Linked DNA regions of Homo sapiens: region 2 is linked to region 1. Evidence: fine-mapped expression QTL. Tissue or cell type: whole blood. Region 1 holds a variant in brackets; the other region holds the start of a gene. All regions are shown on one strand. Distances are from middle to middle.

What was found. PIP is the estimated chance that this variant, and not a neighbour inherited with it, causes the effect.
Region 2: IL18R1 starts here. The variant in region 1 is fine-mapped to the expression of IL18R1 in whole blood (INTERVAL, PIP 0.95).

Annotation. Positions count from the first base shown.
Region 1 is chr2:102,193,016-102,198,015 of GRCh38, reverse strand. The region is part of intron 4 of IL1RL2 (interleukin 1 receptor like 2); the gene reads right to left. Among named protein-coding and RNA genes, the nearest start is that of IL1RL2, 8.5 kb to the right of the region's middle. RefSeq lists an enhancer at 1-939. The variant GAGA/A (reference allele first, on the strand shown) is at 2,455.
Region 2 is chr2:102,353,496-102,358,495 of GRCh38, reverse strand. IL18R1 (interleukin 18 receptor 1) reads right to left here and starts at 2,700. Exons shown (of 11, transcript NM_003855.5): 1 at 2,096-2,700. RefSeq lists silencers at 2,646-2,705, 2,726-2,835 and an enhancer at 2,430-2,931.

The DNA of each region.
Region 1 (5,000 bases):
TTCAAGACAAGATACTAGGTGCTTTGCTAAATCTGTGAAAGTACTCAGGAAGTGGCATCGAGGCCAGAACCACACTGCAGAAGTAGCTTGCCCTGAGAGCCGCTACCTCTACCACAATCTGGAAAGTGGGGAATCAACTCTGAAATACACCACCTGCAATTCAGAGACCAGGAGTTGCCGCTTATGCAACTCCAGTGTGTCAAGTAATGCCACATCAGGAAGAGCCACCCCAACAAATAAAGTGGAATACTCAGCTCCCACAGAACTGGAGACTGGACACTTCAATGCTGCTGGAGAAATTTCCGTGTCTCCAGGGCTCTGCTTTCCAGCAGAAAGAGCAGGAAGATCCTCCATCCTCACCTTTACCTTTCAGCAAAGCCAGCTGGAGACATGGAATTCCATCCAGAGCCTTAGCAGTAGGTGACTCAGCAAAATGTAAGGTGGTATGGTCATTTTGTTCCTGTGTCTTTTTAGTTTTATGGCCTCTACAGGATAAAAAGACTCACCATGGGCATTACACTTTTCCACCTGAACTTTCTATCCATTCAACTCACTTTTCTATCTTAACTGGAATTAGCCCACCTGACCTCTCTACTTTTGTCTAATTTCCAAGCTCTTTCAGGTATCATTTCCTTTCCTGTCCATCCTGGATTCACGTGTCCATCACTTGAATCACTTCCCTTCCAGTACCTCAACTCTGCAGCCCTCCGTCCTTCCAGCATCTTCACCTGCAAAGACCCATTCTGATGGATCCCTTCATCCCTCTCCTGCAAGCCTTCAACCAGAGAGCAGAGCACTATAGGAGATAATCACATAAACAGGGGTCTTGGTACCACTACAAATTCATTACATCTCCATCTATTTACTTACATTACTCTTTCAAATTTTCCCCATAACATCTCCTTACAATTAGAAAAATTAGGGGCCCTCAGACATGAGTTCCTCCTTTTCCCTAATTTTTCAGTTCTACTTTATAACTTTCTGAAATGAACCGCACTTCTTAACTTGATTTCTAGGATAGTCCAAATGATCAGCATGCCACCATTCTCAAGGCCTTCCAATGTATTCACTATAGCCCCACAGAAGGACTTTTCTCAAATGTGAATTTGCTCATGCCATTCTCCTGATGGTAGGATTCACTGTTGAAATGCTTTAGGTTGGCATAAATGGTGTTTATTTTCTAGCACCATCTTTCTACATGTGCCCTAAACTCTAACCAAGGCCCCCAAACACCATTCTCTTTCTCACCCAACGCCTTTGCACCTGCTGCTTCCCTCTAATTACTGACCTTCCTTGCCGTACCCACCAGGCTAACTGTGTTCACTCTTCAAGCACAGTTCAAAGTCACCTTTTCCAGGAAGCATAGCCATGGACATTCCCAGGGTCTGCTCTAGTTTTGCTTTCTTTATGTTCACCTCATGCTGTAATAAAATTCTTAGTTTACTTGTCTGCTTCCTCTGATAAATTGTAACTTCTTTGAAGACATATGACATCCCTTGGCACAGCACCAAGAAGATCACAGACTCCAGATATTGCAGAATTGATTCCAACCCTCTGGTTTTACAGATGACAACACTGAGGCCCAAAGAGTGATTCCAGGTCTGAGCACATGGTAGTGGCAAAAACAGCCATACCTGGATCACCAAATCTGAGCAGGTGGTATAGTATCAGGTGACCCCTCCTGCTTACACTGCTGACCCTCAGCTTTTGCCTACATTTGCAAGCCCAGGGGTTGTTTTTAAAATAAAGGCATCTAAGCGCCACCCATGGGTGACCTGCTTCAGTTAGCAGAAGGTGAGGCTGAACATCAGAATTTTTAAAAGATCCAGAGGATCAAATCCGATGCTCACTTAGGATTGCTAGTCATAGCCCTGAGTCCATCTCCAAGTGCTGCAGAAACAGAAGTTAGAATAGCCAAGGCAACATTTCAGAAAAAGGAAAAGCAGAGGACTTATACAAAACTTAAGACTTATCTAATGCCATAATAATTAACAAGCATAAGGGCCCGATGCGCTGGCTCACACCTGTAATCCCAGCACTTTGGGAGACTGAGACAAGTGGATCATCTGAGGTCAGTAGTTTGAGACAGCCTGGCCAACACGGTGAAATCCTGTCTCTAGTAAAAATACCAAAAATTAGCCAGTCATAGTGGTGTGCACCTGTAATCCCAACTACTCTGGAGGCTGAGGCAGGAGAATGGCTTGAACCCAGGAGGCAGAGGTTGCAATGAGTCAAGACCGCACCACTGCCCTCTAGCCTAGGAGAGAGACTGAGACTCCATCTGAAAAAAGAAAAAAAAAAAGAAAGAAAGAAGGAAGGAAGGAAGAAAGAAGAAAGAAAGAAAGAAAGAAAGAAAGAAAGAAAGAAAGAGAGAGAGAGAGAGAGAGAAAGAAAGAAAGAAAGAAAGAAAGAAAGAAAGAAAGAAAGAAAGAAAGAAAGAAAGAAAGAAAGAAA[GAGA/A]AAGAAAGAAATAGAATAAGGGAATGCTACAGAGGGTTCTGAAACAGATCTACACACAAAGACCAATATGATTTACGTTGCATGCAAAGCAACGTGAAAAGAACAGGTAAACTATAAGTCCACAGAGAAAAAAATTACATTTGACCCTACCAACACTACACACTTAAAAATCAGTGGAAAAAGAAAAACAATGAAACTTCAAGAAGAAAATATAGGAAAAAAGGTCTTTTTACTTAGGGGTAGGAAAAAGATTCTTAAACAAGTCACAGAAAGTACTAATCACAAAGGAAAATCAATACATCAGACTGCATTAAAACTAGGAAGTCTGAGACCTCATTACCAGAGTAGAAAGGTTAGCCATTGCTTAGAAGGACACATTGTAACAATTACTGATATCCAGATCTATAAAGAACTACTACAAATCAATGAGAAATAGACAAGAGGCTAGCAAACCACACAACGGGCCAAATGTGGCTAACCACCTGTTTTTGTAAATAAAATGTTATTGCAACACAACCACACTCCTTCATTTCTACATTGTCTACAACTGTTTTTGTGCTTCCAAAACAGAGTTGAGTGGGTGAAACAGAGACCATCCGGCCTACAATGCCTAAAATATTTATTATTTGGCTTTTCACAGAAAAAAAAAAATGATACCTCCTGGACAAGGTAACCCGCAGCCACTCAGGAGGCTGAGGCAGAAGGGTCACTCGAGCCCAGGGGTTCAAGGTTACAGTGAACTATGATTGCACTACCACACTCCAGCCGGGGCAACAGAGCAAGAGCTAGTCTCAAAAAAAATTTTCACAAGCAAGCACTCAAAGAAAAAAATTACACACACACACACAGACATCCAAGTGCCAATAAGAAAATTTAAAGAAGATCAACATTATCAGTAATCAGGGAAGTGTTAATTAAAGCTGAAATGAGACACAATTACTCATTTATCCAAATAGCAAAAATTAAAAAGACTAATAGTACCATGTGTTGTCAGGTATAGGGGCATAAATAACTCTTATACACTGCTGCTGGAACTGTTAATTGGCACCACTTTGGAAAATGGTTTGGCATTTTCTACGTACCCTTATGACCCAACTATTTCACTCTCATGTAATATGTCCCACAAAATTGCATTCATAAGTGAGGAAAGTGTTCATACCAGCTTTGATTCTAAGACCCAGAAGTTGGAAATGACTCAAGAGTCTAACAATAATAATAATGAAATAGTACACAGCAAAGAAAATGGATGAAATATAGCCACATGAAACAGCATAGATGATTCCCACTGTTTTGCTATTGAGCCAAGGAAGCTAGACATAAACACTACATATGATTTTATTCAAATTAAATAAAATTCAAAAACTGGTAAATCCAATCTATGATAGCATAAATCAGGGAAGTGGTTATTTGGGGGACTAGGGAGGCATAGTTTTTGCAAGATGGAAGAGGTGGGCCTTCGGAGGTGCTAGTAATGTTTTCTTTCTTAACTTTCATGGGAAAGGGTAATTAAAAGGTATGTTCACTTTCTGATAATCCAACAAGCTTGTCCAATTATGATTTCTGCATTTTATATGTATACGTTATACTTCAATGAAAAGGGGTTTTTTTAATGCATTGCAAACAATCATACCCAGGATATATAAATATATAAAATCTCCTATAAGTCACAAGAAAATGGCATGAAAAGTAAAATAAGAAATATACCAAAAGATATGAGTGGGCAGTTCAGAAGAGGATCCAGAAATGGCCAATAAACTGAAAAATGTGGTCAATCTCACTAATAATTAAGGAAAAGCAAAATAAAATAAAAAGGTACATTTTATACCCACCAAACTGATTTTAAAAATCAAAGGCTTATAATACAAAGTTCAACACAAGGTTGTAGGAAATCTAGAATACTCCTGGTGAGCCATGCATGGTGGTTCATGCCTGTAATCCTACCACTTTGGGAGGCCAAGGCCTGAGGACCACTTGAGGCCAGGAGTTCGAGACCAGTCTGGGCATCATAGCAAGATTCTGTCACACAAAAAATTTAAAAAATTACCTGGGCTTCCACTTGAGCCCAGGAATTAGGCTGCAGTGAGCCATGATCACACCACTGCACTCCAGCCTGGACAACAGAGTGAGACTCTGTCATAAAATAAAGTAAAATAAAATACTCCTGGCAAAAGTATAAACTGATACAAAATTCTGTGAAGCAATTTGTGTAACATCAACAAAGTTGAATACTTTGTTCATCTGCATGCCCTACAAATGAGCAATTCTAGGGCTAGTAATCTTAAAGGAATGCATTCACTGGCAAACGTGCCTTAAAATACAGGTATAAGGACACTCACTTCCACATTTCTTGTAAAAGAGGGAAACTAAACAACCTAAATGAACATGAAACATATAACAGAAAGGATCAACAAAGTCAAAAGTTAGCTTTTGAAAAGAGTACTAGAACTGACAAGTCTCTGATGAAACTAATCAAGTAAGTGTGTGTGTGTGTGCACGTGTGTGTGTATGTGTGTAAGAGAGAATGAATAATGACTGAAGGTGAA
Region 2 (5,000 bases), 160 kb before region 1:
TACACACACATAACGAATAGTCACAAACTTACCTAATCACCCAAAGGCATGAAGTTTTCTCTAAATGAAAAAAAAAAGTTTCCTTCAAAAATTGGGTGACCTAGGCTTAAGGTCAGTTCCAAGCTGACCACTCTGTCTCCCAAGGCAGCACAGTAAAAAGCCCTTCCAGAGGGTCCAAACAGTCACCTGAACCCCTGGCTCTGCCCAGTTGCCCTTGTTTATGGGTCCCACCCTGAGAAACTGACCTTTCTCTAAAAGTAATTCACAGAAACACATAATGTACAGGGAAAGAGCCATTTCAAAGCTCTTTCTAATGAGGAACCTGAGATTTGAGGAAGTGAAATGGCCAGCCTCAGATTACAGCTATTCACAAGGACACACATGAATCAATGTAGATGCCTCAATATAAATCACTCATTAGCAACACATACAATCGAGCAACTCCTGAGACAAAATGCCTGGATGAAAATCATAACACCAGTTTTTTTTTAATATAATTTTTCTTCTACAGTGTTCCATGCATAGTCGTTTTACTCAGCCTGTGAGATGATAAAACAACCAAATGCAAAGAGGAGAAAATGATCTTGGGGCATAACATACACACACACACACACGCTTAAACTCTAACAAACAAAATAATTTGTGTGGAATCTGGCTTCTCATCTGTAAGGCCAAGAAAATCAATGCCACCTCATAGTCCTTGTCACACAAGTGTCTGTTGTTAGCCTTATGCTTCCCCCCAAATCTGCCTATGCCTGTGCTACCTGGGCCACCCTCCCCACTTATCCCAGATGCCAGGTCCCTAGAGTCCTTTCAACTTGGCTCAGTATTTGCCTTCTCAAGGAAGCTCTCCAACTGCAACAGCCCCAAATGGCACATGCCTATGTCCAAGCCCGTCTCCATCACTCTGCAGGTGTTTCCATCACTCCTGGACTAGCTCCCACTCTCTGGTGAGGTCCCTGAAGGCAGGGACCCTGCCTTTTCTTTTTTTTCTTTTTTTTTTTTGAGATAGAGTCTCACTCTGTCGCCCAGGCTGGAGTGCAGTGGCACAATCTCTGCTCACTGCAACCTCTGCCTCCCAGGTTCAAGGGATTCTCCTGCCTCAGCCTCCCGAGTAGCTGGGATTACAGATGCATGCCACCATGCCTGGCTAATTTTCTGTATTTTTAGTAGAGACGGGGTTTCACCATGTTAGCCAGGATGGTCTCGATCTCCTGACCTCATGATCCGCCCACCTCAGCCTCCCAAGTGCTGGGATTTAGACCCTGCCTTTTCAATCCACATTCCTAGGCCTTAGCCTTAGTTCTCAGCCTTTGGATGTATATTTGTGCAGGGAGAGGGAAAACACTGTCCCCAGAACCTGCACAAACCCAATTCCCCAAATTTACCCCTCCTAGCCCATCCAAGGCCCTGAGGTTGAGAGGTGTGCTCCCAATAGCAGCACTGTGTATGACACAAAATCAGTATTTGCAAAGGGTCTTGAGAATGAAGCAAGGGAAGTCAGTGAAATGAATACAATAATCTTGGATCTCTGTATCTGGCTGCAATTGACACCTCATTAATTTGTCTGATAACTGCGATGCAAGGTGCTGGGCATTTTAACTTCCCAAGGCTGGGCAGAAAAAAGACAAAGGCTCTGGAATCAGAAAAACTGTAGGTGTGGATCTGGGATCTACTACTTAGTAGCTGGATACTCTTGGGTAAATGACGGAATTCCTCCTCCCTTTTATTAAAGCATAATAATAGTTCCTATTTCATGTGGCCCTTAGGAGGATTAAGTGAAAATAAGATATCTAAAAATTTTCTACAGTGTCAGGCACACAGTAAGCACTTAAAAAATGACAACTATTGTTATCATTTATTTCAGTCGTTCTCACCTCTCCAGAAAATAATTGGGGATGTCTTAATTTCTAAAACTATACTTTCAGAGAAAGACAGGATGCTGTCTCATCAATTATTCACACGTATTCACACACACACTATCTCTCTCTCTCTCTTAATTGATCTTGTTTTGAGAATCCCTCCCCGGATGGTGGTCTTCCCTTCCTCTGGGGGGTGGGGAGGGGATGCGGGTGGCAGCGGAGCCCACCCTTACCTTCAGAGAGGCGTCCCCGAGGCTGGGGCGGGGGCGGCAGCTCCTCCTTCACGCCAGGTCGCGACTGCGGAGGCCAAGTTCAGAAAGTAGGTGAGAAGCAGCGATCTCCGCCTCCTGACTACCGTGGAAAGTGAAAGAGAGGTGTGATTAAAGAGATAAGGCACCCAGAGAGGGCTACAAAAAAAAAAAAAAAGAAGAAGAAGGAAAAAAAGTAGGAACAGAAAGAAGAATGTCAGGCGTCTGGCAGCTCCTGGCTGCTAACCCCGGCCGGTGGAGGCTGCAGGTGGGCACTGCCCGCGGTCGGGCGAAGCTCCGGGTCCGGGAGTGTAGCGGTCTGGGGCGCTCTCAGTCTGGGGCGCTCCCTGGCGTAGAATCCTCCCTGACTCGGAGGTCCCGGTCTGGGGACCCTCCGGTCCGGGTGCTCCTCGCAGCCGTGCTCCAGGACCGGCTCCTCCACCCAGACGCCCCGCGTGGAGTTACCGGAGCTACTGGATCGCGGGGTCCAAAGGTTGCTGCTGGAAAACCCAGCGCCTTGCCCTTTTCCCGCGGACGGCGTGGGCCCCAGGCGTCTGGCGCTTCCTGCCCAGCCGCGCGGCGCGGGTCCCGGGAAAACCCGGGCTGTAGCCGGGTGACCTGCGGGGCCGGAAGGGGGCGCGCCCGGGCCGCTCGCAAGCACCCTGCAGGCCGCGGTTCACAGCAGAGGATGCCAGGAGGGAGGACCGCTGGCCGCAGCGGCCGCCCGGCTCTTCAGAGGAAGAGGAGGGGAGGGCTGAGGGTGGAAGAGGGGTCCCCGGGGGATGCCGAAGGTGAGAGGGGCTCCGCGTCTCAAGTACACAAATGCGCCCCAGGCTTTTTGCTTTCCCAGAAGGATGGGAGTTCACTATAGGGAAGTAATAGAGAGGGGTGCAATTGTTGAAGTTTTAATTTTTTTTAAGGAGGCCAAAGGGGAATGTGTGTTTCTAGATTTTTATTTTGTGGCAGAACTGTTATTTAACCAAAGGAAAAGGGAAACCCATAGCCGACAGGCAAAATGTTCAATTGGACAATGATTTTAATTCTTTTTACCCAATTTAGATAATTCACCACATAATAAATAAAAATATGTAATTATCTCAATAAATGCAAATAAAAGCATCTGGCAAAATTCAACACCCTTTCTGAATTAATAACGATCAGAAAACCGAGAGTAGAAATGATCTTTCTTAATCTGATAAAGAACATCTATAAGAAACCTACAGGTGACCTCATAATAGTGAAACATTTTACTTTTTCCTAAGATTAGTAATGAGATAAGGATTTTGGCTCCCACCTGGGACAACTGCTTTGCAACAAGTGAAGAAATAAAAATAAAATTAGAAAGCATAAAGATTGAGAAGAAAGAATTAAAACTACTGGTTTTAACAGAGAGCATAATTATATGTAGACCAACTTTTGAAATCTACAAAAAAAAAAACTACTGGAAATATTAAGTTTATCAAGATCATGGAATATAAAAATCAATAGCAATTCTATATATTAGAGATGGAAACTTGAAAAGTGAAGTTTGTTAAAAATGCCATTTACCATAGCATTTAAAAATCAAAATACCAAAGTATAAATTCATTGGATAATATATGAGATATCTCCTGTGAAAACTACAAAATATTGCTAACAGAGATGAAACATCTAAGTAATAAAGGGATATACCACGTTTACGGATTGGAAGACTTAAGACATCTATTCTCCACACTGTATATTTTTAGACTCTATATATTACAGAATCTATATATTTAATACAATTCAATCCAAATCCCAGGAAAATTTTTCAAAGAAATTAAGAAGCTGTTTCTAAAATTCATATGAAAATGCAAATAATCTAGGATTGTCCGGACAGAGACGGAGTTTTGCTCTTCTTGCCCAGGCTGGAGTGAGTGCAATGACGCGATCTCGGCTCACTGCAACCTCCGCCTCCCGGGTTCAAGCGATTCTCCTGCCTCAGCCGCCCGAGTAGCTGGGATTACAGGCATGCACTATCACGCCTGGCTACTTTTGTATTTTTAGTAGAGACAGGGTTTCTCCGTGTTGGTCAGGCTGGTTTTGAACTCTCGACCTCAGGTGATCCACCCATTTCAGCCTCCCAAAGTGTTGAAATTACAGGGGTGAGCCACCTGCCCGGCCTGTCTGGGCAATCTTGACAAAGATGAACAAAGTTGAGAGACTTATACTGACTTGAGGATTTATAATAAGGCAATAGTAATTATGGCAATGTGATATTCACAGAAACATACAAACATACAAAATAGAAAGTAGACTAATAGATCCACACATATCTAGTCAATTGATTTTTTTAACAAAGCACCATGTCAATTCAGTGGGGAAAAAACAGTCTTTCACAAACATTGCTGGAACAGCTGGGTACCTCTACAGAAGAAGCAGCAGCAGAAAAAAGAACTTTGTCCTTGCCTTGTTCTATATACAAGTATCAATTCACAATAGACCATGGACCTAAACATAAAAGCTAGAACCGTAAATATTTCATAAAAATACAGAGAAGACCCTTGAACAGGCAAAAAATAAATAAATAAATCATGCTCTTGGACAGGCAAAAAAAAAAAATTCTTAGCTAGGACACAAAAAAAAATAGCCATTTGGGACACATTGATTAATTGGACATCACCAAAATTAAAAATGTCTACTAAACAAAGACATCACTTAAAAATGAATAGATAACCCTGGAAATATTCTCACTTTACATCTATCTGGCAAAGAACTTGCATCCACAATACATAAATAATTCCTACACATCAACAATATAAAAAGAAATACAATTTAAATAAGGCAAAATATTTTGCCTTCACTAAAAAATATATACGAATGGCCAATGAAAACATGAAAAGGGCTCATCATCATGAGTCGGGGAACTTCA